Linked DNA regions of Homo sapiens: regions 1, 2, 3, 5 and 6 are each reported to be linked to region 4. Evidence: microRNA targets listed by miRTarBase, many of them from high-throughput screens and not tested one by one. Region 4 holds a microRNA gene; each other region holds the end of a gene's coding sequence.

Region 1 (5,352 bases), not on the chromosome of region 4:
CATTTACAATCTTTAAGAATCTCCTCACAAATTACTTCCTAATTCTAATTTTACAATGGAGAAACCTGGTATATACTATCTGAACCAAGTGACCAAAATTAATACTATCAGGTATAAGACAAATTGACATTGTGTGCATCCTGGCATGACACATTTGAGTATAGAGCATCATTTCTGTAGTATTGGACAAAAATGTCTATCCTAAACCTTATGGGTCTTATCTAATGATAAACCAAAACTGAGGAACTTTCTACAAACTGGCCAATCCTCCTCAAGTGTCAAGGTCAAAGACAAGTCTGAAAAGATGTTCTGGACTGAATGAAACAAGAGATAGGGCAACTAAATGCACTATGTGGTCCTGGATTGGGATGCTGAAACACAGGAACATTACTGAGGCAATCAAAATCAGCAGATTGAATGTGGTCTATGGATTAGATATCATGATGTCAATGTCAATCTCCTAAGTTTGATGGTTGTACTATGGTTACGTAGGAATGCCCTTGTCTTAAGGAAACACACAGTAGATAGAGGTAATAATGCAAAAAATATTTTGGTTGGGATTACATTGAATCTACAAATGTAAATGAACATCTTTACACGACTGAGTCTTCTAATTCGTGTACATTATGGAGTACTACATTTATTTAAGATCTCCTTAAATGCTTCCTGACATGGTCTAACATTTTCTCCATCAAGATCTTGTACATCTTTTGTTAGACTTATTCTTAGGTAGAGTATTTTGTATTTTTTAATGATATTGAAGAGATCTTTCTAAAAACTTCCATTTCTGTTAGTTGCTGATATCTAGGAATACAACTGACTTACATACTGATTGTGAATGTAGCAAATTTGCTAACTCCTAGATGTTAACTGAATAGTCTACATATATAATCATATCAACACATCACCATAATTTCCTGCCTGTAGGAAAGAAAAACCCACAGAATTCCACTGACTATAAGTTATTTAACAATATACAATGGTTGTCATTTAGAGAGATGTTTCCAGTTGTATAAATACTGTAACACAACGATAGCTGGGAATAGTGTAGCCATAGTACCATCTTTAAATCACCCAAATAACTGAGGTACAATTCTATCTGCTTGTGAGTTCACTAGGCAACAAGTCTCAGGGATCATATAGTCTTTGTCTCTGTATCAAAACAAATACACTGCCTAAGGTACACTAAAAGTAATTTAACATACTGTACTCATAAATTCTAACTAAGTTCTCTGTAGGTAAAACATGGCTAGGGAAGTTATGATCAACCCTTCAGAAATGACTTCTTCTGAGTCGTTTGGACAATACGCATCATCTTGGACAATACGCCTCCCACAAGGCTTCCTGGTGTTCTGGCAGCACTAACAGGGCTCCTGCTGTTGCCCTTTCCTTTTGGTCACGTATCTTTCCATGTTGCAAAAAACAACTTCTGGATAAATGATTTCCACCACACTATTAGATAGCACAACACAGTGCACACTGTGGATCCTCTAGAAATAGCAACCTCTTCTCAAGAGATACTTGCCTCAGGGCCCCAGGAAACTAGAAAGCATCTAGAGGCTTAAGGCTCTACGCTGGACAAAGTGCCAGGGAGCCCTAAAGGCAGAAAGGACCCAAAAGTGAAATTCTCATTTTTAAGCTGTGAGGGAAAACAGAGAAATGAGTTTATTACATGATATAACCTTTGGGTGGGCTCCATATATTAAAAGAGAACTGAAGAAGTTTAAAAGTACATTTTCTAAGTTTTAGTATAGGATGATGATAATGTTCTGGAGATGAATAGGTGCTCATGGTTGCAAAACAATGTGAATATACTTAATGCCACTGAACTATATGCTTAAAAATGGTTCAAACAATATACTTAAAAATGGTAAATGTTATGTGTATTTTACCACAATAAAAATTTTTTAAAGTTGCATTTTCTATTGTTAAAAACTACCAGATATTATTTAGTAATCACAGTCATTAAGAGCACTAACCATCAAAATCTGACAGCCCTATGTTTGAGATTTGACTCCACCTGTTACACCTGTGGAACACTGAAGCAAGTCATTTAACTAAGCCTTAGTTTCCTTATCTGTAACACAGAAATAATAACATGCTTACCCACCCATTATAGGTTGCTGTGAACTTGAAATAAAATAATCTATGTAGCACCTTGGCAAAGTTCCTGGCACACAGAGAAGGCTCAATACACATGGGCTCTAATTTTCTTTTTAGGTATTCATAGCAATATGATTATTTTATATTTTGTACAATGAGGACTAAAAACAAGCCTTCAGAAAAAAAAGGGCTGGTTATTGCTCCCTAGACCTTTACATCACATAGAACTATAAAACAGGTTTCCATAAAATTCATTCCACATTGTAGTCAACGGATGTATGATCCTAGGTGTTGACTTCTAAGCCAATGGTTAATAACCTTAAACTCTCATACTGTAATAGGCAACAACTGAAAAGAAGCCACGGGAACATGAAATAATTTAACAAGTTGATATATATATATATATATATTATCAAGTATAACACAGTCATACAAAAACATTTAGTAGAAATATAATTCACACATAAAAACAGTCTACTTATTTTTTGTCCCTTTTATATCCTATTTTAGGCAAAATGATAAAACCCAGAAAATAACAGGAATGTACTAGTCCTAAAAACTGGACCTTTTATAAATGAAACAGATCCGATCACCTATACCTTCTCTCAAATTCCAAATAATGAGGCTTACTGACCTGTACTCTCAGAATCAACTTAAATAAATTTTAGCTTGATTTGGATGAAATATGTACTTTCAGTTGTTGACAATCCAGGTAGAACAAGTACATAAAATGATTCCTAAGTCAAAACATTTCATACAAAAGGAATGGTTTTAACCCAGACAAATCAAGAGGAAATGCACTGAATTCAAAAACTTCTGAAACAGGCATTTTTTGGACCATTTATAAAATACTAAAAAGTTCAGAACTGCTGAAAAACAAAAGTTTATATAAAATAAAGCCAAGGGGTGAAAAACTATCAAATGTATTAAAACCATCTAAAGCCAAATATAATATAACTGAATATATAATTTAGAAACAGGTTTAAGTGCATTTTCTTTGTACAACTGACTATCACATGTAAAAACTGGCAATTAATTAAAATGCAATTAAATACAGATTTGCAAGCCTTCTGGCCATTATGTAAACATTTAAAAATTAACTGAATTGCCAATTGAAAAATAAGAGCTTACATACGTATCTTAAAAAAGCACAAATGGTGAAAGATGCACTATAAAATTGTGTGACAAAACATATGCATACCAACAAAGATCTTTTTAGGCACTTGCATTCAGAAACATTCCTTTTATAAATAAGCACTTATAACAGTTCCACTCCAAAAAATAAACCTGATTTTCCCAAATTGCACCTATTAGTTGAGACTATATCATATATTAGGGATGCATTCAAATGGACCATTTGGTGGGGAAAGTCAACTGAACTTTAAAAAATACGAATCCACCTATCTTATTCACAACTTTAAAAATACAGAATTTAAAGATAATTCCAGTGAGGCACAAATGTGACCCTATCAAAACATTCTACCATTCAGTATTACCAACAGAGGATAAATACAACAACAAAAGGCAAAACCCATGATTTGGCAGTCCTATACAAAAGAGGCCCTGTCAAAACATTCTTTCACAAAACAAGCACAATACCACAAAATAACACAACAACAACAAAAAAACCCTGAAATTTGACATCCCTACACAAATTGTGGAATTTCACCTTCGAGGTCTTCAAACTGTTGCATTCGTTTTAGCCTTGGTCTCTGACACATTGGATTCACATCAGGCAAGCCAAGCTCCTCAGAGTCTTCTTTAGGTTGACCAGTTGCTTGCCCAGGACAAGCTGATGCTTTGTCTGGGTCTGGCATTGACTTCACCACGAGACCGTGGGGATCGTGATCTGTGCCAGGAGGCACTGCTGCTGAGGGTGAAGCTGGCTTCTCCTCATTCCCCCTGATACTGATGATGGGAGCATGTGGTTTATAAAATGTTGTCCAATGTTGAGGCTGCAGTGTTCTGGGTGCTCTGACAGGAGCGAGAGGGTAGGAATCTGAAGACCGTCTCTCAGATGCCTCTCTCACTGACCTGACTGGCTCTGCATATGGCTTACTGGGTTGAGTGGCATTGATAGAATGGTCCCCACTAATCTGGAGGCTTGTTGTCACTCCTTTTTCCTGGAGTGCACTGGGCATGATCATTGTAGTCTTGGCAGTTAGGCTGTTTTGTTCATACTGTTTGTCCTGAATTTTCTGTAGAGTTTGCTGGTCAAAGCCATTAAATTTGGAACAAACAGTAGTAGCAGCGTCTTTTCTATTAACTCCTTCAAAGGCAGGATTCTTGCAAAACTTGTCTAAATTTACATTTCCCATATTTCTGCCATTTCTCTCATTAGGAGGACTTGCAAGAAGTAGTCTATCTACAGGCAAACTTACAGGTCTAATCTTGGTCCTTGGAGTATGCCTCTCCACATTGTTTGTTGACCTATCAGATTTCAGAGAAAGTGGCTTAGGGGTTTTACCATCTTCTATCTTTTGGGATGCTGATTCAGCCTCTTGGTCTAGAAGCAACTGTGCTTTGTCTGAAAATGAAAGAAATCTATTTAAGTTTGTGGCACATGGTTAATAAGAGAGTTTGAATGAGTTAGAGATGAACACTCTATCAAGACAATATGAGTCTTACATATTTTTTCCAAAATAATATTCTCAGTTACCTATGTGGAGGAGTTAAACATTTGCACAGTATTAAAGGTGTATATTGAATTTAAAAGTTCAAATTTTTTACTCATTTAAATCAACATGAACAGCTACAAAACACAAAAAAAACACTTGCTGAGTAACTTCTTTTTAAGTGCTGTGCATGAACAAGTACTTTCTGGGTCAAAAGACTATCACAATTTCAATAGGCAGACATTGGAAAATTAACCTCAGAAAAGTGACACTAATTTACACACCAACCAGATGTAAGTGTGCCCTGAATCCCAAGGATTTTGCCAACTCACTCAATCTGCTTTTCAGTTACACTCAACCCAGTGAGAGCATATGATATTAGATGCCTTAGATGCTCTCCATATCTGATCAACTAATAAAGCATAAAATCCATTCTGTCAAATGAAGGCTGAATGCTTTTAAGTTAAAAAGTGCCATTTTCCCCACCTGCTCCCGGATTTTCTTTCTATAGTCCGAACCCACAGTCCATGTTTTCTCACTTAGAAGCCTCAGTTCCTGCATCTATCCTAAAAAATTCCAATTCCAGGAATGTTCCAGCCCTCCATTCTCCTGCTTTTCTGTTCACTGCTGAAAC
Region 2 (5,352 bases), not on the chromosome of region 4:
CCAAAACAGCATGGTACTGGTACCAAAACAGAGACATAGATCAATGGAACAGAACGGAGCCCTCAGAAATAATACCACACATGTACAACCATCTGATCTTTGACAAACCTGACAAAAATAAGAAATGGGGAAATGATTCCCTATTTAATAAATGGTGCTGGGAAAACTGGCTAGCCATATGTAGAAAGCTGAAACTGGATCCCTTCCTTACACCTTATACAAATATTAATTCAAGATGGATTAAAGACTTAGACCTAAAACCATAAAAACCCTAGAAGAAAACCTAGGCAATACCATTCAGGACATAGGCATGGGCAAGGACTTCATGTCTAAAACACCAAAAGCAATGACAACAAAAGCTAAAATTGACAAATGGGATCTTATTAAACTAAAGAGCTTCTGCACAGCAAAAGAAACTACCATCAGAGTGAACAGGCAACCTACACTATGGGAGAAAATTTTTGCAATCTACTCATCTGACAAACGGCTAATATCCAGAATCTACAAAGAACTCAAACAAATTTACAAGAAAAAAACCACCCCATCAAAAAGTGGGCAAAGGATATGAACAGACACTTCTGAAAAGAAGACATTTATGCAGCCAAGAGACACATGAAAAAATGGTCATCATCACTGGCCATCAGAGAAATGCAAATCAAAACCACAATGAGATACCATCTCACACCAGTTAGAATGGCGATCATTAAAAAGTCAGGAAACAACAGATACTGGAGAGGATGTGGAGATATAGGATCACTTTTATACTGTTGGTGGGACTGTAAACTGGTACAACCATTGTGGAAGACAGTGTGGTGATTCCTCAAGGATCTAGAACTAGAAATACCATTTGACCCAGCCATCCCATTACTGGGTATATACCCAAAGGAGTATAAATCATGTTGCTATAAAGACACATGCAAACGTATGTTTATTGCAACACTATTCACAATAGCAAAGACTTGGAACCAACCCAAATGTCCATCAATGATAGACTGGATCAAGAAAATGTGGCACATATACACCATGGAACACTATGCAGCCATAAAAAATGATGAGTTCATGTCCTTTGTAGGGACATGGATGAAGCTGGAAACCATCATTCTCAGCAAACTACCGTAAGGACAAAAAAACCAAACACCACATGTTCTCACTCATAGGTGGGAATTGAACAACGAGAACACCTGGACACAGGAAGGGGAACATCACACACCAGGACGTGTCATGGGGTGGGGGCAGAGGGGAGGGATAGCATTAGGAGATATACCTAATGTAAATGACAAGTTAATGGGTGCAGCACACCAACATGGCACATGTATACATATGTAACAAACCTGCACGTTGTGCACATGTACCCTAGAACTTAAAGTATAATTTAAAAAAAAAGATAACAAGACTGTATTAGCCCCTTTTATAAAGGCATTATAAACTTTTTTTTTTAATGTGACAAGCATATGAAGTAGATGGGTCAAAAAGGACCATCTCAGGGCTCTGTTTTGAAGAGTCTTATTTAGAGGTATCTAAGCCAAATGGCATACCACACTAAATGCTTTCAAATTTTAACCACAGCACTTAAAAAAAGAGAAAGAAAAAAGGAATACAACTTAGTTTAAGCACTCATTTTTATAAAAATGTGTTTTATTGTTTTAAAACAAGTCTATAAAAGTAGAAATCACATACAAAAATACAGATTACTCTGACATGTTGGCAAAATAGCTTATGGCTGGACTTGAGTTTGGAAGTTCTGTATGTTTGAGGGCATCCGATGTCAGAGTCCAACCGGATCCTAACCCCAGCTCTTGTCACTAATCTGTAAACAATAATTTCAAGTAGTATTTAGCACTTTTTAACTATTAAGAAATTGAAGCATCATCATTTCCTGTGCAACCCAACTTTAAAATCTTCCTTAGGTCTAAGCAGATAAAGGCACTTCATAGTATGTTTCTAACATTAACAATTTTTGATTTAAAAAAAAAAAGTTAATATAAATGACTGGTGTTAGCTTTTTTTGTTGTTACATTTTGAACATACGAACAAGTCATCAATTTAAACTAGTTTTTGTGATTTTTAAGAAGTAGAATTTGGCTGGGCGCAGTTGCTCATGCCTGTAATCCCAGCACTTTGGGAGGCCAAGACGGGCGGATCATGAGGTCAGGAGATTGAGACCATCCTGGCTAACATGGTGAAACCCCGTCTCTACTAAAAATACAAAAAAATTAGCCGGGCGTGGTGGTGGGCGCCTGTAGTCCCAGCTAGTCGGGAGGCTGAGGCAGGAGAATGACGTGAACCTGGGAGGCGGAGCTTGCAGTGAGCCGAGATCGCACCACTGCACTCCGGCCTTGGTGACAGAGCGAGACTCCGTCTCAAAAAAAAAAAAAAAAAATAGAAGTAGAATTTAATCTTTTCACTTCTCTGTACCAGTTTAAAAAAATATATATCACTGATGGTATCAAAAGGTCCCACATCTGGATTTTAACTCTTATGTAGGTATAAGTAGTGCTTACTACTGAAACTGCATGGAAGATATACCTGCTTCTACTGTATATTTCTGATTGAAGAGAACATGCAGTTCCTCTTAGGGAACTGTAGGTCTGATAACCTTATATATGGATAGTTTCAAACAATTATTGCTGAGAGATCATTTAAAAAAAAAATACAATTTAAAATACTTGATTCCAGAGTAATATAAAAGTAACCTTAAGAACCTCAGCGCTAAAGGAAAACAGCAGGCAACTTCAGAATTCTCCCATCCAAATTTTCAAGAATAGAGAGTGGATTAATACCACCTTTCTAAAACAAAGCAAGTCATTTTAAAAGCTAAAGGACCCATGTTAACATAATTTGATTATCAAGTTAGAAAACCACAATTATATTTCTCATCTAATTTAGATTCTGGAAACACAGTAACTTAATGAACATTACAGGATACTTCAGATTAACCTGTCATAGAAAACTGTCTGCTGGGCCTTCAAATCCTATATTGATTCTATATCTCTGGGTTTTGTAATGTTTGGTCTTTTGTTAAGTTTTAAGGTGAATTACATGGGGTTACTTATTTCTATTAACCTAATTTCAAATCTAAAGGCAAAATTCAAATACATTTTTCTCTTTCCTATTCCTAGAAAAGATGGCCTCAGACGCTACTATCCTATGATTCTCTTTTTGTTCAGCTCATAATACAAATAGCTTATTGTTCTTCTAAGCTGTCTTATAAAGCAATACTATAAAATTAAATAGATAAAAGTTATATGGGCTATGAAGATTGTTTGCTGGTGGTAATTTTTAAGCTTGATTCTGAATAGACTTAGTAAGAAGGGCACTTGGAAGAGGTGGCTCAAATTTTGCTCTTTAAGGTATCTTGAAATTATAGGCTCACTCTCCTAAAATTTCAAAAGGCCTACAACTTTGGCTCTTAAGAGCAAAGCAGTGATAGAAGCTTTTAGAATCATTTCAAAAAGCAAGATTTCATAGTTTTCCCTCTCAAATGGCTCCCTAGTATACTTGCAGAATGAAGGCAAAGGGAAAACCAAGAATAAAACTAGCTAAGTACTCCAGCAATTGGGCTTCCTGCCTATTTTCCCTGTTCTAAAGAAGAGACACCATCCTGCAATAAATACTTCATAGACAACTGGGCTTTTGCAGTGTCAGTCGGCATTTGATGCCCCATATCTCCTGGTTCTTTTTGTTGCCAATAGTTGGCCTGGCAATGGTGGTGAAATGGGAGCAATTAATCTGTAGATGAGGAAGGGCTTCCTTTAACAGTTGAAGGGTACCATCTGGCACGATTCCAAAAACTTGTAGTGTTTTTAGTGTGGGAATTTCTCCAAGTTCACTGGAAAGGAAGAAAAAGACTTTCAGAATAGCAGTATCTATGGAAACTGTTTGACTAGAGTTATATGACCCAAATTTTACAATTTGTGTCATCTACAAAATGCAGTCTGAAAGTGTAATTTACAATAAATGATTTGAGAAAATAGCAAATTAAACTGGAAAGCACAGACCATATAGCTTGAGCAACATGTCATTAGGAAACACACTGCTGCATTTTATTGAATGAGGTTCCTAATAACCTTAGAAACTCAGATTTATTTAAGAATCCAACCATATTTGCTTCCTTTCTCCAGTTGTGATTTATACAGTGATCTGAATGGGGTTACTGTGTTATGAGAAGAAACTAGCAAGTGAGTGATGGTAAAAGCAAATGTTTTACTGCGGCACCAGTTGGAACCACCACAGGTTACATGCAAATTAAGGATATGAACTTGACCTTTATTTGAACTAGGCTCATCTCTTAAAGGGAGATGCTGTCAGGACTGATGAACTTCTTAATAATGGTTCATAGTCAACAAGTCCATTATGTGTGATGAAAACTACCACTGACTTCCCTAAGATATTTTAGATAGGGTTATACAGTTGGGTACAGGTAGAGACAATGGGTGAAAAATCACACCCTTTATAGGAGGTAATAGCCATCTTACCTCCCTACGTATTACCATTTTTTTTCTGCATAGATAAGCCAGTCCCTTTAGGTATTTCACATTAGATGAAATTCAACCCTGTTAACAGTGAAATTCTGTTTCACAAATTCTGTTTCTCAAATTCTGTTTCACAAATTCTGTTTTTCCAAAGTAAATACTGTTTGGTGTTGGTAATGATTTTTTCCTTCTTAACTCAGATCTATGTGCCTAGAAATTCATCTCTCTCATCTCTGTTTGCTCAAGGTTGGGACATACAGTACAAAGTCTCAGGAAAGGGAACATTTATTTTGGAATTTCAACAAAATCCTACTACAGATCAATGAGCACATCAATTACCTAAAGTCAGAAACATCCTTTATATTTTCACATTGTCAATAATTATTTTTAAAAAGCCCCAAACTTTCCTTATAACTGTCTTTCTTCCTTCTAGCCTATTCTATATACCAATTTCCAAGGCATCCTCCTAAAGCCTAGCTCATGTTAGTCATTCATCTGCTCCAAAACCTTTGATGCTTCCCTTGTGTTTACAGAACCCAGGCTGTTCAGCTAGTCTGAAGACCTTCCGTGTTTAACCTGCTCTTCCAGTCTTCCCACTACTCCCCTAAATGTATTTATTCTACATTCTACAAGGTGTCTTAAACCCCACAAATGTTTAATATACGTTAGCTGAGTACAAGATGAAGGCTAATTTATAAAATAAAAGCATTATCCAAGGGAAATAAATATGCTTGTTCACAAGGGGACAATAAGATCTAAAGGTATATAACCAAAGAAAATCAGAAAGAACAAATTGCTGTCATTAAGTAAACTGCTTTCTGGAATGTAGAAACACTGTCGAAGTAAGATCACAGTATACACAGATACTTATACTTAATCA
Region 3 (5,352 bases), not on the chromosome of region 4:
TAGCAAAGCCAGAGCATGCCAGCCCAGGTTCTTACCACCACAACACACCGCCTTCCAAGGCATGACTTTCCTATGCCATCCCTGGCAGGACAGCATGGGTGGCTTGCTCTTCTTCTCTGTGTTTATTTGCATGCTGTGACACCACTGAGCTGGATAAGTTTAAAAGCAGGCTATGGCTGTTGCCACTGTTTGTTAAACATTGCTACTTGGAGCAGACGGAGAACACAGGCAGCAGCTTGAGTTTTTCTTAGCCATCTTGAACAGTATCAAGCAGGACAAACAGAGGGAAAGCAATTCTTGTTTATCCCAAAGAAGGAAGTGACAGCACATATCGTGTTTTCTGTTGGAATGTCTGTTCTGCCTTGGCTTCGCAACGCTTTATGCTTTTTGCCTGGAAGTTTTAAGTGATGATGCTAAAATGATCTTCCTTGAAGGCCTTTCTAACTCTGATACCAATTTTCACCATTGCACAGCAGCTTTTCTTGTCAGGCATCTCTCCCTCTCTACAGCTGTCCATTAAACTACCCATGTCTTATGTTCCATTTATTTTAAATATTTCTACTTTCTTGTGCATAAAGCCTGAATAGAGGAATTGTAACTATGCAATAATATGTTCCAGTTACCAAGCACCTATTATCTGACAGACACTGAGGTAGGCACTTTATGTATTGCATTTTATCTCAATCTTAGTGCAAACCCTACAAGGTATAGCTCCTTACTCCCACTTTGCAGATGAAGAAACTAGATAAGAATGACTAAGTAGTAAGGGACAGAGCTGAGATTCAAAGGTAGTTCTGTCTAGCTTCAAAGCCAAGGTTTTCTCTCCAGTGCAGAGCACACCACAAATAATGCTAATTGTATTAGTGAGGGAAAGAAGGTATTACCTGAAAATGTTCATTTTAAAGTTAGGTATTTTAATAGTCGGCATCACACTCCCTTTTCCTCAGTCTTTGAAAGCTGGATTGGTGGCCTAAGGTGATGAAATTCAAACCTAATACAAATGCAGCACTCCCATATCATATCCCTTAACAGTCTAAGGAGAATTGCTGAATATAATGGGCCCGTCTGTTCTACTGCTTCATCTACCTGGTCAGCTCTCAAAGGAAAACAAAATCCATACGATCATCGAGGTCTAGAAATTAACTTTTATTTTAAATCTGTCAAGAACTCCTGGCAGTTATTAATTTTATTAAAATGATTACATATGGCAAAACAAAGAATAGAGGTAATTCTATTTCTCTACAACATAAATTATGAGTTAGATTTTCAGCTGCCGGCTCAGCATTGTTCAAGATTCTTTTAAAGGACTGGGGGGATTTTAATATCCAGAAAATGTTAAAGCAGCAAAAGAAAAAATAAATTAAAAAGTCATTGCAATTGGAGATATTACCAAGGATGTGCTTACTATAAAGTCTTCTTGACATGTTAATTATAAAATCTTCCAACCTTTGGTATTAAAAAAAATCATGTGAATAGTTGTCCTATATTGCCTTGTCATCTATAATTTATAACATAGAAGAAATTTGCTGATTTTTTTAAAAAGATGGCAAACATGAATCATGACTCATTCAAATAAAATACAACCAGCATTCATTCATTTAACTGAAATATGTCAAAACAAAAACACTTTTATTAACATATTTAATACCAGAATAACTTATAATAGTATGAAAAAGAGTGAAGTATTTGTCTTTAGTTTTCATTGACATGCTCACATTTTGGCATTTTTGTATTGTTTTGCAAAGATTCCAAAGTTTTTATCAGAGATCTCTAACTATTTAAGGATGCAAACCAAAAGAACTCATACTTCATCTGATCATACAGTCATAACTTATATATTTTGCTTTGCGCTTACTGTTACTGCAAACAGCAATTTAGAAAACAAAGTAAAAATATATATATATACACAAAATATTTTTATATCAAATTATCTTCATTACACTAAATAAACCCAATCCCCAAATGTTATGTTACATGAAAAAGTGTCCTACAATTTAGATCAAGACTGATACTGTCCATCAACTAGAGCAGCCTTTGGTTTTAAAAGCATTTTGCAAAATAAAGAAAAATGTCACCACTGGCTGCACTATTGACCCTCATTCACACTGACAAAAATGCTTTCCAGTTTAAAAAAAAAATAGATTACATACCCAGAAAAAAAAAATCCCATCATAAAAAGTCAAACCCTTTTTACTTCTCTGTAGCACATACCCTCTGTTATATTTGGCATTTCCACTGCTTATTCAAGTTTCAGGTCTTCCCAAGCTGATTGGAATATTATTGTTTAGTTGAGAAAGATAGTCTTCTTTCTTGATATTGATTATTCTCACTCAATGGTAGACTAATTTAGAAACAAAATGTTTTCTTTCAATGCATGATTTCACTTCATTTTTACTTTAATGTCCAACTTGGCAAAATTCAAACTGTTCAATGTTTTGTTTTCCATATGTTTTAAATTTAAAAATCAATTTTATGTATGTATATGTATAGCCGCACAGAGATACATTTCTTTCATTCTGTTGTTCTCGCTGCAATACAAATTGTCCATCAGCAATTGTAATTTGAAACAAACCAAATAAAAGATTTTTAGTCATTCCATACGAACACAGTTTCCATCACAAAAAGACAGTGAGCTCTAATGCAAACAGGATTATGTTTTAAAACTACAGGTTTAGTTTTACACAGGAAAATTTTGAGTTATTTGTATAATAAAGTTTTTTTTTAAACTTCAGCAGAACTTGAGAAACAAATCCAGATTAATTCTAAAGGGCTTTGTGGTGCTTTCCAACAGTGCTTGAAAAAAAGTTTTCCTGGTCACCATGTGTTCAATGAAATTTTAAATTAGCTTGAAGGAATCACTTCTTAAATGTACAACGTTCTGTGGATCGCTGCACCTTGAATTTTGGAAGTTTGTAACATATCAAATATGCAGGCAAGATACATGCATAAAATTCTCACCGTCACTCTGAAAAGCACATTGAACAATTTTCAATAATGTAGACGTTTTTTAAAAGGAAGATTTCATTTGGGCTGAACAGATATCCAAGTTTTAACATATGAATTATTGAATGTATTTCAAGGGCTTTCAGCGATTCTGGTTTCAGTCCTGGAATGATTAGGCCCGTCTGGAATGATGCACACAGGCTAATAAGCATATGGCGTTGGCATTTTGAGGCATAGCTTGTTCAACTATGCCCACGTTGGAGCTTATTGTCGGGAAGCAAGGCACTTACTGTAATGGTAATGCAGATGTTTTATGCATAGTTTGAGTAACATAAAATAAGTTAATATTTTTGATTAAAATGAGTTTTTTATAATTTATATGTCTTTTATAGAAGCAACTAAATGATATATTTGGGATAATTAAAAATAAGAAGAGGTTTGGGAGAGAGTCATTTTCATCCCTGCTTCGGCTCTTAGGATGAGGGTTGATGAAAACACCGGAAAGAACATCCATTGGATCTGAAAAGCAACAAGCTCTTAAAACTGCTGCACCAGCGGCACTTTGACAGTCTTTACTTCTGCTATATGGGACGACTTCTGGATGATGCAGCTGGTAGTTCCCTGCAGTTTGTCCTTTCCCTGTGCAAGATTTGTTAAGGCCATAGCTGCGTTGATCTCCTTCCAATACGTGTCATCCTTGCTTGGTCCTTTTCTGTTAGCTGCGCTGGAGTTAAGCAAAACAGAAAGTAAACGATCAAACTCACTGCAGTTTGCATTGAAAATGCCATCGCTGAAAAGCAGGAACGGCCAATGGGAACATTTTGCTCACCTTTCACCCTTATTGGATCCGTTTTCCAGAGTGTCTGTAAAGAAAAGCAAAAATTCAATTATTTTTATGTTTTTCCTTTCTTTTCTCATCTCAGGAGTTTCATCACTAATGACCAGAAGTAAAAGTTCTTCAGGAAATATGGTTGAAAATTAGTTCGCTTTTAATAAAGATAAAGCAGTTTATATTAAGATGCAAAAAAAATTGCAAAGGGGCAGAAGTAAGATGACAGTGGGTAGTAAAGAATAAAAGGTAGCTCTCATAGATACACAAAAATCTGAAGTTATTTACTCTGAGAAATTGGGCCTTTTGGATCAGGAGACAAACAGCATAAGGAAAAGAGTGCTGACTGTACCTGGGGCCAGGTTCTGGCCTTGCCCTACTACCCACTTGCAGTGTAACCTGGGGGCAGATTATGACCTCCCACAATGTCAGGGATTCAGTTCTCTAACTATAAAATCAGGGAGCTTTGGCTGGGCACAGTGGCTCATATCTGTAATCCCAGCACTTTGGGAGGCCAAGGCGGGGGATTGCTTGAGCCTAGGAATTCGAGACCAGCCTGCGCTACATAGTGAGACCTCATCTCTACTAAAAATAAAAATAAAAATAGCTGGGTATGGTGGGTGTTCACCTATATTCCCAGTTACTCAGGAGGCTGAGGTGGGAGGATTGCTTGAGCCCAGGGGGGTGAAGGTGCAGTAAGCAGTGATTGTGCCACTGCACTCCAGCCTGGGCAACAGAGCAAGACCCTGTCTCTAAGAAAATTAAAATAAAAAAGGGGGGGGTTCTAGAAAATCTTGGGGGTGCTTCTGGCTCAATGATTCTATAATTTCATGGTTATCAAATTTTCTTTTTTCTTTTTCTTTTTTTTTTTTTTTGAGATGGAGGCTTGCTCTGTTGCCCAGGCTGGAGTGCAGTGCTGTGATCTCGGCTCACTGCAACCTCCACCTCCCAGGTTCAAGCAATTCTTCTGCCTCAGGCTCCTAAGTAGCTGGGATTACAGGCACCCGCCACCAAGCCCGGCTAATTTTTGTATTTTTAGTAGAGACAGGGTTTCACCATGTTGATCAGGCTGATCTCGAACTCCTGACCTCGTGATCAGCCTGCCTCAGCCTCCTAAAGTGCTGGGATTACAGGCGTGAGCCACCGTGCCTGGCCAGTTATCAAACATTTATTTCAGACAAAGGATGGGCAAATAGTTCCCTCTGCTAGTTAGCAAATGAGTAACGGACCCAATGGTGATAGCAATACAGGATTTCCTGGCATATTTATTAGAAGAAGCAGGCATTGGTCCTCAATTTCCAAAACAACGCCTCCTCCTGCTGCTGCAGGAAATGAAAGTTAGGATGCTAGCTTTTGCTTCTGCACTCACATCTTTGGTTTAGATTTGCTGCTTCACTCAGAACACGAATGTCTCCCAACACCACATAAATATAAAGAACCCACGAAAATGGGTTCTCAAGCTCCTTAGGCTAAAAGAATCTGGTATGAGTAACACAAAAATTTACCTACTGAAGGGAAAGATGTAGGGTGGTAGGAGAGAGGCTACTGGCATGGCATCCGAGCAAAGGAGTGGGGTTGAG
Region 4 (5,352 bases):
CCACCTCCAAGAGGACAGACAAGATAATTTAACCGGAAGTGGCCTCCTGGGAGGGGACTGGGTTACTGGGGAGAGAGGAAAAAGGAGACTCATACATTTCAATGTTTGTACAAGGTGCAAGTATTACATAGCTAAACTGAATACCTTTTTTTTTAAGTTAAACACTAACTCTTTGGATTACCGCTTGGTAACCTGCTAGAAGACTATTAGGTTCAACAGTAGCATCTCTGAGGAGTTACCTAGGTCATACCTGGGCTTCCTTGGCCCCATCAGTAACTGTTACATGAGACCTGTTTTCAGCATGGAAGGCACTCTACCATCTCAAATGATTTCAATGGGAGGGTAGAACTCCAGCCCATTCAAGCCCAGGGTTCCACAGAGACCCCTTGGTTGGACTCTGTCAATGACTAAACCCTTGGGCTTACGCTGCTGGGCTAGCTGATGTGGGACAAAAATCTCGCAGATGCAGTGGCCGAAATGTCCTTTCGGGGCCATAAATCTGCTAGGAATGGCTGCATTTGCCCTTTAGCCCAGAAGTATCCTTAATCTGGCCCTGGGGGGAAAGCCTCTTTAAACTGTGTGTTCTCTCCAGCTGGAGAAGCTAGCCATCGGGGAAAGAAAACTGATTCAGAACTGCAAAAGCAATAAAGAAAGAAGCCAGATACAGGACCAGACACAGATCTTTTCTTGGAAGGTAAATCATACCATCCCTTATCTTGTGAATTTAGTCTCAATTATGTCCCCTGTTGGCAGCAAATGCCCTGTCTTTTCTGCACACCAAAACCCATTCCAAAGTCCCAGCACCAGGAACTATGAATATCAAGAAGTAGTTGGGAGAAAAACAGAAACAAGTGTTCTTAATTCATATTTTGTGTCTGCTAGGAGAATCCTTCGTCTAAAATACCTCTTCCACCATGCACCTAAAAAATCCAACGGAAAACCTCAACCTCTTAACTCTAACACCTACAAATACTTTGTTTTGATCAGTGTAAATCTGTTTGCTAGGAGGCAGTTTCAGCTTCCACCTATCCCGCCCTGGAAGCAAGGCGAAAGCTCCAAGTACCCTGAAGGTGTCTCTCTCCTGACAGCTCTTCCAGAGGCCTCAGCCCTTCAGCCCAGGCTCACCAAGCAGTAGGCAGCCTACCACAGATGAGATGCAACTGTCTCACCCAGAAACCGTCAGATGAGGAGAAATGGGAGGCACTAAGAGGCAAGAACTGGGGAAAATCAGCTCAAGAATCTTCAGGCCCTACCAGCCCTTTCTCCTCTCTGGGTAACATTTTCTCCGGGTAAGTCTCAACGCTTATTGCTCTGGTCTCAAGCTATCTCAATTTTCTCAGGAAATGCTGAGTTGGGCTTAAAAGCCCACCATCCCGAAAGATGGTGCCCTGTCCCAATTCCCTATTTCTTTTCTATTTGTCTCTCCACTTTTCCCCGACCTCAGGTCTTGGAGTCAGCTCCCTTTAGCTAAATAAATGGGGTGGCTTTTTCCATCCTGCATTTCAAGATGAAGATTGAGCTGCAATTTAGAGCTCTCCAATCCCTCCCTCCACTTGGCCCCATGACAACTTTTCTTCTGTGACACTTTATATTTGCCACCTCCTTCCCATTGCAACCACTTCCCTAACCTCCACTTGCATCATTCCGGAATGTCTGAGTTACATTCCCTGCTGAGCTAGTCCCCACCCAACCTCTGCCTCTCCCCATTCCCAGGCAGCCACCCACTCCGCCCAGAGGTTTTCCAAAAATCCCATTCACCTCTGGGTAGTCCTGGCTCAAGCATCTCAGGGGCTTCTTATTGTCTCAAATCCCAACACGCAGCTGGGGTTCACAGAATGAACTTCCAGCCCTAATGCTCACTACGCCCCACCAGCACACTCCAACATTGCTTCCCAAGTGCTAGGCCCTGAGGATTCCACAGTGATCAATGCAGGCACAACCTCCACCCTTGCCGGCTTCCCACTGCCTTCCTCCACGCCAGCGAGGCTGGGGCATCACCCTCTGTCTCATCACCTGGCCTCACTCCCATTGCCACTGTCCGGGGGCACCCGCCTCCTACGAACTCAAATATCACACATGCGAGGACCAGCTCCTCCACCCACCTGAGAGAGTCCCCTCATCTTGCAGGGCCTCGGATTCACATATTCTACCCTCAAGGGGTTCACTTCTAACTGTTCATCACTGGTCCCATTAACAGAGCCACCATTACGGTGTGTCCAAGTGTCAGGCACATGACTGTGTGATTTCATTTGTTTATGTGTTATTTCATTTGTACAGAATGAACGTGTGTTATTTCATTTGTACAAAAGTTATTGCATTTGATCTCTACCCAACAGCCCCCACTGGTTGGTTTCCTCATCTATAAAATGGGGGTAGTAAGACAAGGAAGGAAGGTCTTACTGCCCTCATTTTATAGATGAGGAAACCAAGGCTTGAAGAAGCTAAGGAACTTGCTGATCAGGGCTAAGCCTGAACTCCATCCTGTCCGCCTGACTCCAGGGTCCATGCTCTCAACTCTGCTATGCCACTCCCCGGTAATTCCCTATGTGTGTTTTGTTTTTGTTTTTGAGATACAGTCTCACTCTGTTGCCCAGGCTGGGGTGCAATGGCACGATCTTGGCTCACTGCAACCTCTACCTCCTGGGTTCAAGTGATTTTCCTACCTCAGCCTCCCACCACACCCAGCTAATTTTTTGTATTTTAGTAGAGATGAGGTTTCACCATGTTGGTCAGGCTGGTCTCGAACTCTTGACCTCAGGTGATCCACCCGCCTCGGCCTCCCAAAGTGCTGGGATTACAGGTGTGAACAACCGCGCCCAGCCCCCTGTGTATGTTTATGCATTTAGCATCTCACCTGGCACAGAAGCAGGATCAATGAGGTCATTACTACTCTTCCACGCTAGCCAGTCACTATGCAAGCATGTATTTTGTCCAGCACGTGCATTCCCTCTCTCCCAACCACGGATAAACAACTCAGGGCAAGGCCACCTTGTCAGATCCTCCTGTGGCCTCACAGCATCCAGTAAGGAGCTGTGCATAGCACAGATGCACAGTAAATGCTGAAGGAAAGAACCATTTCTTGGAGTACTGCCCAGTAATAACTTGTCCTCCTTAAGCCACTCAGTCAACTGAGAAAACGCAGGATTAGAAAATGGGGCATTCATTCTGCTAGATACTGATTGCCACGTAAGAATATCAGAAGTATAAATGGACAGAAAGATGGCTCAGGTCAGCAAAAACACAAATAGCTATTTTGCAACCAGTTGGAATGGGGCAGTCAAAAGCCAGGAGGGCTGAAGAAAACCTTACAGTCTTACTGAAACAGCCTTGGGCAACATGGCAGGGAGAAGAGCCCTGCCTTAGATGGAGGTAGACTCCCAGTTGGCCACAAGCCATGCGACAACAAATGGCTCTTATGATAAAAGCTGCAAACGTCCATGAAGTGATAACTTCAGAAGGAAAGGGGAGGGTCTCAGGTTGGTCTTTTCAGCCCTGTGCACTGTAACACCCTGCCACACCATATTGCAACATCCTGTGGAACGGCAGCATATTCTGAGAACCTCAGGCCAGAATCTGGTTTGCTGCTGTCAGAGCTTGGCTATAACTCTTCCTAGTGAAGCTGAGAGAGACACTGAACCTCTCTGAACCTCGGGTCTGTCATCCATAAGCAGCAAAACCACAACCATAACCAGTTCCAGGGAAAACTGGTTGATAAAATAAAACTAGCCAAGTGCTGTAGCTCATGCCTGTAATCCCAGCACTTCAGGAGGCCGAGGCAGGAGGATCGCTTGAGCTCAGAAGTTTGAGACCAGCCTGGGCAACACAGTCTTTACAAAAAATACAAAAACTAGCCAGGCATGGTGGCACATGCCTGTAGTCCCAGCTACTCAGGAGGCTCAGGTGGGAGGATCATTTGAGCCTTGGAAGTTGAGGCTGCAGTGAGCTGTGATTGCACCACTGCACTCCAGCATGAGTGACAGAGTGAGACCCTGTCTCAAAAAAAAAAAAAAAAAAAATCAGCTGGGTGTGGTGGCACATGCCTGTAGTCTCAGCTACTTGGGAGGCTGAGGTGGGAGCATTGCTTGAGCCCAGGAGGTGGAGGCTACAGTGAGCTTGGATGGTGCCACTGTACTCCAGCCTCGTGACAGAGCAAGACCCTGTCACACACACACACAAAAAAAAGGTGGGGGGGGAGAGAAAAAAAGAAAAAAATGAAATAAAAAAACTATAAAGTGCTACACACACATAAGGGATATTATCAAGAACAGAACATCAGCAGTCAGCTCCATATGGTGTCCTGGAGTAACACTAGTTGAGATTAGACCCCAGTATTTGCTGACGTCTTGATGGTTAATGGGCAGGGGAGAGGCCACCAATATTGTTATTGGCAATTGCTCTATTTTTCTTGAGGTAAAGGGTAAATTCCCCTTTGTGAGCAAAACATCTTTTTCTGTATTGTAATTCCATTCTGCTATCTCCAAGCATTCAGTAAAATGTTGTGAAATGCCTGACAGGTCGTTTGTGTATTTAAGGCAATATGGTATGAAGGGTGAAGCAACAGCCCTGAGGCAGGGAGAACTAGGCAACATACAGAAGAGAACAGCTGGCCAAGGAAATAACCAAGCCAGACAGATGACATTCATTTAACCTATGTTTTTCACTCCCTAACTATGTTCCAAACTTGGTGGAACACATAAGCATCCCTGGGTATTTGTAGAAAAACTTGGGGAAGGGAACTCTATAAAAGATAGGTCTTCTTTTTTTTTTAAGATGGAGTCTTGCTCTGTCACCCAGGCTCCCAGGCTGGAATGCAGTGGCGCGATCTTGGCTCACTGCAACCTCCGCCTCCCAAGTTCAAGCAACGATTCTCGTGCCTCAGCCCCCTAAGTAGCTGGGACTACAGGTATGCACCACCACGCCTGGCTAATTTTTGTATTTTTGGTAGAGATGGGGGTTTCGCCATGTTGGTCAGGCTGGTCTCGAACTTCTGACCTCAAATGATCCACCCGTCTGGGCCTCCCAAAGTGCTGGGATTACAGGTGTAAGCCACTGTGCCCGGCCTAAAGACAGGCCTTCCTACAGGTCAAGGAAGCTTGACTAATTGTTATTAGGGATTAAATTGAAAAACTGTCCCTGAAGACAAAGAGGTCAGGACCATCTAAGACTCAAAAGTCCAATAATTACAGTTGAAGGTTTTGCCTTCAACAGTGTTCATCCCACTATCTCCTGGCTCCCATGATTTCTGAGGAGAAATGAGCTGTTAATCTGATCAAAGATCCTTTGAACAAGATAAGTTGCTCATCTCTTGCTGCTTTCAAGATTCTTTGTCATTTGACACTTTGATTATGAAAT
Region 5 (5,000 bases), not on the chromosome of region 4:
TGGTGGACCATGCACTGTGAACTAAGCGCTTTTGTGTGTGTCTTTTGATGCTCAGCATGACCTTATGAGTGGGTTGTAGTGTTATCATCTTTAGCAAATGAATAAATTGAGGTTTAGGGGTTCCATCACTAGTAAGGGTCAGGGCTGGAATCCGATGCGGGGTAGCCATGCCCCACAGTCCTGTACTCTTACCCACCAGCGTGTAACAGTGTCGAAAGAAAATTGGAAGACCAGTTTCCCTAAAGTCGTTGTGTTTAAGGCTGTAGTCTGCAGGGACGGGAGGAAAAAGGCTCAATGAGATGTTGGCACGCGTTGTCTTTAACTTCAGCACTTGATGATATGAGTAGTCGCATTGATGATCTGGAAAAGAATATCGCGGACCTCATGACACAGGCTGGGGTGGAAGAACTGGAAAGTGAAAACAAGATACCTGCCACGCAAAAGAGTTGAAGGTGAGGAAGGGGGCAATTTTTTTTTTCTTTTCTTTTCTTTTTTTTTTTTTTTTTTTTTTTGACACGGAGTTTTGCTCTTGTTGCCCAGGCTGGAGTGCAATGGCACGATCTCGGCTCCCTGCAACCTTTGCCCTCCTGGGTTCAAACGATTGTCCTGCCTCAGCCTCCCGAGTAGCTGGGATTACAGGCTTGTGCCACCACACCCAGCCAATTTTGTATTTTTAGTAGAGACGGGGTTTCTCCATGTTGGTCATGCTGGTCTCGAATTCTGACCTTGAGTGATTTGCCCGCCTCAGCCTCTCAAAGTGCTGGGATTACAGGTGTGAGCCGCCGTGCCCGGTCTTTTTTTTTATTTTGTCTTAAAAGAATAGAGAGAACCTGTAAGTATAATTTGTATGTAGTCAGACATTCTGTAGATCAGTTCCCAGCCATGATCCCAGCAAGCATCACTGTATTGTTTACCTGCTGTGGACTTGATGTTTTGAAATTTTTCATGCCAAACTCATTCTTTACACCGAATTTATTTTCCCAGTTTTTATTAATTAGACTTCTGTCACTATTAGTGAAGACCACTGGCTAACATTAGATAACCACTGAGTTTTTATCATTCCAGCTAATAATTAAGGTGTCTTTTTGTTGGCCTATAAAGCCTGTCACTGGAAGATTTTCCATTGCTTTTTTTTTTTTTTATGGAAATAACTGATAAGTCACCCACATTACCACCTTCTTAAATGGCTTAAATTCTGGAGACTTTCTTGGTAACTTGACATAGGTGAACTAGATTGTGGCCACATTAAGCTTTTACCCTGGAGTTCATTTAAATTTCCTCTGAATAGTTTCAGATGTCAGAGGAAAGCCTAGTAATTCAAAGTACCTACACAGCAAGATAGGTAAATGTACAGAATCACTCAGCAGAGTGCATGGTGATCCTTTTCCTCTGTATGTGTGAAAAATAAGTTTTAGACTCACTTTTCTCTTGTTTCATTTATAACATTTTAATTCTCTATAAAAATGAATGTTGCTGAGGGAGGCGGAGGTTGCAGTCGAGGTCACGCCACTGCACTCCAGCCTGGGCGACAGAGTGAGACTCTGTCTCAAAAAAAAAAAAAAAAAAAAAAAGGTACTGGTGCGTGGTGACTCATGCCTGTAATCCCAGCACTTTGGGAGGCAAAGGCAGGCAGAGGGCAGATCAGTTGATGTGAGGAGCTCGAGACCAACCTGGCCAACATGGTGAAACCCTGTCTGTACAAAAATTAGCTGGGTGTGGTGGTGCACGCCTGTAATCCCAGCTACTTGGCAGACTGAGACAGGAGGCAGAGTTTGCAGTGAGTCGTGATGATGCCACTGCACTCCAGCCTGGGAGACAGAGCAAGACTCTGTCTCAAAAAAATAAAATAAAATGGTTCCTGAGTATTTTTAGATTCGTAGAGTACTAAGCAGAATGTACAGTAAAACATGCCTAATTTCCTATTTTCTGGGCTTGCTGTGGACCACATTTTAAGTCACTGTGAAATACAGATTTGGGATGTTGAAGACAGACTCTAAAATTTGCTTTTATCTTCACAGTAGGTGGGGTTCATTCACTGTGTGAGTAAATCACATAACTGCTTTCTATGGGTTATGTCATCGTTATTCTTATCCAGAGATAATTTGGAAAAATGTCCTACCAGTCTCAGATGCTTCTGTGGGTCTCTTTTTATATTATGTGGCAATCAAAACTGCCATCAACTGACTGATTATCTTACCACAAGAATTTCAGGATGGTAGACTGGCTAGTGATGGGGGTCATTCAAAGAAAAGAGTGGGAGTAGGAAACTGACTCTGAAACTTTTAAAGATATTTCCAGTTAAATCTATTGCTAAAATATTGCCAGAAGAAAATAAGTTTAACTCAGTAGGAGAGTGGAAAGGGATTTGTAGTTGATAGGTCTATATGTCATTTTTACTTGTGCTCATATAATGAAAAACATGTTGATGATTTTTCCTTCTTCAACAGGTTGCTAATAATTTATACTGGAATCTGGCATTTTTCCAAGCCAAGAGAAGATCGAATGGCTTTTTGCAGCTAACTACTATGTGTAGACAGGTTTTATATTATAAAGTATGCATTCTTATCACCTAGTATATAGTTAGTTTGTAGAGTGATTTCCCCCCAGTTTCTTGAACATGGTATCTTCACATCTTGGACCTTGGTCAGTTGTGCTATTCATTATTAAACACTAAAACTTTGGCGGTTCTTGCATAACATTGTCAGATTTTTTAGTGTATTTCTGTGAAGTCATTTTTTTTCTTGTCATTCCTTTTGTAGTAGTTGCTGTTTGGATAAAAGTTGATGTGTGATTTTTTATTAAACAAATAGTAAACCCTTCAATTATAGTTAGTCTTGGTGAAGTAAGATGTTTGTAGACTTTAGAGTTCTTTAATTCTTGGCACAACGTGACTGTTGAGCTAACACCAAATAGTGTGTTGGCAATACTTTTCAAATGGCTGAAAACACCTAAAAATTGTTCATTCAGAAATATCTGTCACTGCTCTGTTGCCAAAACTCAGAATAGAACTTAGACGTATGTCTGAGTCCCTGAGATCACATGCTAAAGTCGATGAAAAGTAACCACTGCCACTGTCTTGTGTCAGAACTTTTACAGTACAGAAAATAACAGAATAGCCTTCTGTAATGAGGCGTTTGTTAGAGTTTTGCATGAGATTCTAATACTTCAGTAGGACCCTACCTACGTGGTTCATCTACAATGGTTACCATAAAAAATCTGGCAGGATTTTAAAACTCAATCAGTCTTTCCTTTGAGCTAGTGACTTGAAAAGAAAGAGAGAAGGAAAAGAGACCATATTAAGTCCATGCCAGTTGCTTGGCTAGAATATGATCAACGACTTGTAGTAGACTCAAGTTTTTAAAAAACACTATTTTACTTAAACTGTTTCTTATCTAAATTCTTGCAGAGTGTCAATGTTATCATTGATTATAGAAGACAGGGATAATACCTTTATCTCTGGCCACTCAAAAATGCAGTGCCAGGAGTGCTAAACCTAGAGGCCAATACTGATGACCTGGAAGGTGATCCATATGATTGTCACCACAAAGTGCTTTTACACAAAAACTTGAAAATTTGAAAAACATGATTTTTTTAAGTTTCTCATCTCACCAGTCTTGGTGTTTATATTGCAAATCTATCAAAGTAAGAAATAATTTGTGCTGTATACAAATTACATGGGGAACATAAAGGAGTGAGATCCTTCTGTGATAAAATGAATTCACCACTCTGGTTACCCAACTACAGAACCTCCTTTGATCAGGCCAGTAGGTTGTGATGCAGGCTGGAGCCCCCGAATGCCCCACACACACTGCAGCATTGACCAGACCATCCGAAACCTGCGTCCCTGGTGATGTTCTCAAGCCTCGGAAGTGGCAAATGGAAATGATATGGCCGGTTGCGGTTGTAGGAGAGTTGTGACTTAGGCAGGAGTCGACCTCCTCAAGTAATGGAACGATTTCAAAGGCAGGCTGCCCTGACCAAAAATATCTGCCATGAATAAAGGTGCCTGAAATCCTGCTATGAAGCTTCCTTTGTGTCAAAAATCTGTTTGGTTTTCAGATGGAAATGCAGAAATCACATTAGAGTATCAACTAAAACCTCTGGACGGATTAAGTACAAGTAGCCCAAGGCAAAGCAGGAGAGGGGGTGTTGGGGGAGGTTGCCTGCTGGAAGGGGAAGCTGAGGAGCGGGAGGAGGGCTTGCCAAGACTGGCATTGCAGGAGACTTGTCTCAGGTGTGTTCCCAGAACTCTTGCCCCTGGAGATGCTGCAGGAAGGAAGGGGTTATGGTCACTTGGGTTTAGACGACATTCTGTGAACCTCATGAAGAAATTAGCATATTAAAGACTCTGAAAGTAGAGCAGAGAACTCAGCTTTAACCTGCTCACCTGCTAGTTTTCGAGGTCTCGCTCTGTTGCCCAGGCTGGAGTGCAGTGGCACAGTCATAGCTCACTTGGAGCCTGAAGCTCCTGGGCTCAGGCAGTCCTCCTGCCTCAGCCTCCCAAGTAGCTAATATTACAGGTTCGTGCCACCGCACCTGGGTCTTGCTGTGTTGCCCAGGCTGGTCTAGAACTCCTAGGCTCAAGCAGTCCTGTCTCAGCCTCCCAAAGTGCTGGGATTACAGGCTGGAGCCACCATGCCTGTCCAAGGGTCTTTTTTATACTATATGAAGTATTCCTTCTCCAGCTATTCTTGTTCGTTTACCAGCCAGTGAAGATTCTCTTGAGGGCTGAACAATACAGATGAGTATGGGGGCCCTCGCACCAAGGAAAACAGCGTTACATTTAATTAAGTGCCCTGTCTCAAACCCCAAGGCCCCACAGCTTCTTCATTTGGCCCCTAGTTCATCCTGCTTTCCTTTGAGCCACAGGATTTTAAAATATTTCAATCTTATTTTCATATCAATTTTTTCTTTGTTTCACTACAAGTACAGTCATTGTTTAACCCTATCAGGACTAACACAATATTTCACGTAACTAAGAGTTAATTTGCCCTTGTGAG
Region 6 (3,000 bases), not on the chromosome of region 4:
TAAAACACCTTAGATTGTGCCATTTCTTTGCTCGAAACTCTAATGGCACCAGGCATGGTGGCTGATGCCTGTAATCCCAGCACTTTGGGAGGCCGAGGCGGGCTGATCACTTGAGGCCAGGAGGTTGAGATCAGCCTGGCCAATATGGCAAAACCCCGTCTCTTCTAAAAATGCAAAATAATAATAATAATAAAATTAGCCGGGCCTGGTGGTAGGTGCCTGTAATACCAGCTACTCGGGAGGCTGAGGCAGGAGAATCGGGGGCGGAGGTTGCAGTGAGCAGAGATTGCGCCACTGCACTCTAGCCTGGGTAACAGAGTGAGACTCCATTTCAAAAAAAAATGCAGAGACACGGCCGGGCGTGGTGGCGCACGACTGTAATCCCAGCACTTTGAGAGGCTGAGGCGGGTGGATCACCTGAGGTCAGGAGTTCGAGACCAGCATGGCCAACATGGTGAAACTCCGTCTCTACTAAAAATACAAACATTGGCCGGGTGTGGTGGCGCGCGCCTGTAGTCCCAGGTACTCGGAGGCTGAGGCAGAAGAATCGTTTGAACCCGGGAGGTGGAAGTTGCAGTGAGCCAAGATCACACCACTGCACTCCAGTCTGGAAGACAGAGTGAGACTCTGTCTGGGAAAAAAAAAAAAAAAAAAAAAAAGCAGACACCAACACCTAGACTACGCTGACCATTTGAAAAAGAAATTACAGGTATAATAAGGACTAAGAAGAAACAAAATTGTTTGTATACACAGAATATATGGTTGTCTATGTAAAAAAAACAAACAAACCCACAAGAATATGCAGATACAAGAATGAGAGGTAGCAAGGCTGCTGGATACAAAAATCGAAATCAACATTAGCTAAAAACAGAAAATGTGGTAACTAAAAATATACCATACGAAGTAGTGTTAAAAAGCATAAAGTCCCTAGGAAATATTAACAAGAAGACCTTTATGGAGAAAATTATAAACTTTATTGAAAGATATTTCAAAGGCCTAAGTAAATGAAGAGCTGTACCATATTCATGTATTGGAAGACAACATTGTAAAGATGACATGGTTTACCAGATTAATCTATAAATTCAATACAAATCCAATCAAAATTTCAATGCTCTTGGGTTTGTTTGATTTATAAATTGTTGGTCTAATTCTAGAAGTAATATGGAGGAACAGTTGGCTAAGAATAGCCAAGACACTCCAAGGAAGAACAATTTTGTGGTGATACTGGAGACAGAGGTGAAATTGGTTACAATTATGACAAAATGTGGAGGCATCTTGGTTTTTATCAGACCTTTTCCTAAAGTTGCAATAATCAGGACTGTACTGTACTGCTACAAGATTAGACAAATTGATGTCAGTCAGAATAGAAACCATCAAAAGACCCACACACATACACAAAAATTTAATTTATGAAAGAGGCAGTGTTACAAATCACTGGGGAAAGGATGAACTTTTCAGTAAATAGTGCAGAGACAACCACTTCGAATATGAAAAATGTTAAGTTGAATTTCTAACTCATAATTTTCACAAAAATCAGTTCAGGACAGACTAAAGACAAATGTGAAAGGCAAAACTATAAAATTTCCACAAGGCAGTAAAGAATATATTTATGACTTTGGGTAGGAAAGGATCTCCCCCCAAACCAATTTGTATTCAGCTTTATATGATACTTTTTAAAAACATTTACTTTCAGCAGGAAATAGGCAACAATCTATAACATTTTACAATTTCCAAACTCCCCTCCTCCAAAAGTCACCGTAAAAGTTAACAAGATATGTCGTTGCTGTTTTGAACAAGAAAGATTTTCAGAGAGGGTGGACACTTCACATGAGGCATGTATGAGCTTTTCTCAGGCCCACTTTGACATGGAGGGACTAAAGTAAAACCAGCAGGATGAATCCACAAACTGAAAACAGGAATCTTGGCTCTTTTAAGTGACACCATCTCGATGTCATCAACAGAAAGCCTGAGTTTTGTTACCTAACACAGCTGATTTTAGGGTTGCCAAGGCCACATCAAAACTCTCGGTTTAAGGAAGTCAAGTCTATGCTGATGGCATCGGGGAAAGGGGAGACACGAAGTTTTGGTTCCCCACACTGTAAGGCTTCCGTGCCAAAGTGGCTGACACGTGAATGTCAGAGAATCTCTCCTGGGAATCAAGGGAATCAAGAACAATCTTCAAAAACCAGGACAGAAAATCCTATTTTCCCTTATTTCAATTCAGTTTCTGAGATACACCCTATTAGTGGTACTTGCCCTTTCCACAAAAGACAACAAGGAAGTGTCCTGTGTGCTAACAACATAACTTAAAAAAGCCAAAATTCTACACTTTTATAAAACTTGATTTAAAAAAATAGTATTTCAAACAGTAGAGTCACTATAAGTACAGAGCTCTCAAAAATGTACATTTCACTTGGCATCCCCAGTGCCTTCCGCTTTCTGGGACTGGAGTGTAGAGGCATCTCGGTTTTTTGCAGGGTTGTTCCCATCCTTTCCAGCATCTGCTTTCCCCTTTCTCCCTTTGGGAAGCTTCTCTCCCTTCTTTGCAGAGGCCTTTTTAGGCCTGGGCTCTGGTTTTGGAGGAGCTGGTTTAGCAGACAACCGAGCTGATCTCCTCTGTGGCTCATCCTTCACCTTTGCTTTATCACCTTTAGCATCTCCTTTTGCCTTTCTCTTGGGCATGGTAGCAGCAGTGTTCGCAGGTGGCTTGAGCAGTCCTGTTGGGTGCTTCTGTCCTCCTCACGCTGTTCCTGGAAAGATGTCTTTAACAAGACACAAAAAGCGTAAACCATAAAGGGAAAGACTGACGAATGTAAACGTTAAAAATCAAATTGACTATATTGTTAATAATTCGTGTATATCAAAAAAGATAGCATAATAAAAGTAAAACAATAAGTACCAGCTTGGCAAAGATATATGTAAAATATATAATGGACAAAATGTTAGAATCCTGAATACATAAAGCATTCCTATAGATCCATGAGGAAAGGACAAAATGAA

What was found. The annotated mature microRNA hsa-miR-3163 reads UAUAAAAUGAGGGCAGUAAGAC and lies in region 4 at 2,394-2,415, opposite strand. An mRNA with a match to its seed (bases 2 to 7 or 8) in the 3' UTR can be bound and repressed. Matches are read on the target gene's strand: a 7mer-m8 pairs with bases 2 to 8, a 7mer-A1 pairs with bases 2 to 7 and ends in A, and an 8mer does both.
Region 1: the mRNA of ARHGAP29 is a reported target of hsa-miR-3163. Seed matches in the 3' UTR shown: 8mer at 3,274-3,281, 8mer at 2,991-2,998, 8mer at 2,946-2,953, 7mer-m8 at 2,829-2,835, 7mer-m8 at 2,348-2,354, 7mer-A1 at 2,332-2,338 and 1 more.
Region 2: the mRNA of SKP2 is a reported target of hsa-miR-3163. Seed matches in the 3' UTR shown: 8mer at 3,220-3,227, 7mer-A1 at 2,682-2,688, 7mer-A1 at 1,656-1,662 and 7mer-A1 at 1,622-1,628.
Region 3: miRTarBase lists MKX as a target of hsa-miR-3163. Seed matches in the 3' UTR shown: 7mer-m8 at 3,275-3,281, 7mer-m8 at 2,946-2,952, 7mer-m8 at 1,573-1,579 and 8mer at 1,431-1,438.
Region 5: miRTarBase lists HSBP1 as a target of hsa-miR-3163. Seed matches in the 3' UTR shown: 7mer-A1 at 2,539-2,545 and 7mer-A1 at 4,655-4,661.
Region 6: miRTarBase lists HMGN4 as a target of hsa-miR-3163. Seed matches in the 3' UTR shown: 7mer-A1 at 2,333-2,339 and 8mer at 1,575-1,582.

The regions. Positions count from the first base shown.
Region 1 is chr1:94,170,120-94,175,471 of GRCh38, forward strand. It overlaps ARHGAP29 (Rho GTPase activating protein 29), which reads right to left. Exons shown (of 23, transcript NM_004815.4): 23 at 1-4,630. The coding sequence ends at 3,750. Among named protein-coding and RNA genes, the nearest start is that of ABCA4, 52 kb to the left of the region's middle.
Region 2 is chr5:36,180,295-36,185,646 of GRCh38, reverse strand. SKP2 (S-phase kinase associated protein 2) reads right to left here. Exons shown (of 10, transcript NM_005983.4): 10 at 1,328-3,829. The coding sequence ends at 3,616. Among named protein-coding and RNA genes, the nearest start is that of SKP2, 31 kb to the right of the region's middle.
Region 3 is chr10:27,671,749-27,677,100 of GRCh38, forward strand. It overlaps MKX (mohawk homeobox), which reads right to left. Exons shown (of 7, transcript NM_173576.3): 6 at 3,773-3,806; 7 at 1,126-3,667. The coding sequence ends at 3,481. Among named protein-coding and RNA genes, the nearest start is that of MKX-AS1, 70 kb to the right of the region's middle.
Region 4 is chr11:66,932,083-66,937,434 of GRCh38, forward strand. It overlaps MIR3163 (microRNA 3163), which reads right to left and starts at 2,424; the gene lies at 2,352-2,424. The region is part of intron 3 of PC (pyruvate carboxylase); the gene reads right to left.
Region 5 is chr16:83,808,974-83,813,973 of GRCh38, forward strand. It overlaps HSBP1 (heat shock factor binding protein 1), which reads left to right. Exons shown (of 4, transcript NM_001537.4): 3 at 332-452; 4 at 2,448-5,000. The coding sequence ends at 450. Among named protein-coding and RNA genes, the nearest start is that of HSBP1, 3.5 kb to the left of the region's middle. RefSeq lists enhancers at 3,955-4,466, 4,467-4,978, 4,979-5,000.
Region 6 is chr6:26,544,889-26,547,888 of GRCh38, reverse strand. It overlaps HMGN4 (high mobility group nucleosomal binding domain 4), which reads right to left. Exons shown (of 2, transcript NM_006353.3): 2 at 956-2,762. The coding sequence starts at 2,682. The coding sequence ends at 2,410. Among named protein-coding and RNA genes, the nearest start is that of TRA-CGC1-1, 7.1 kb to the left of the region's middle.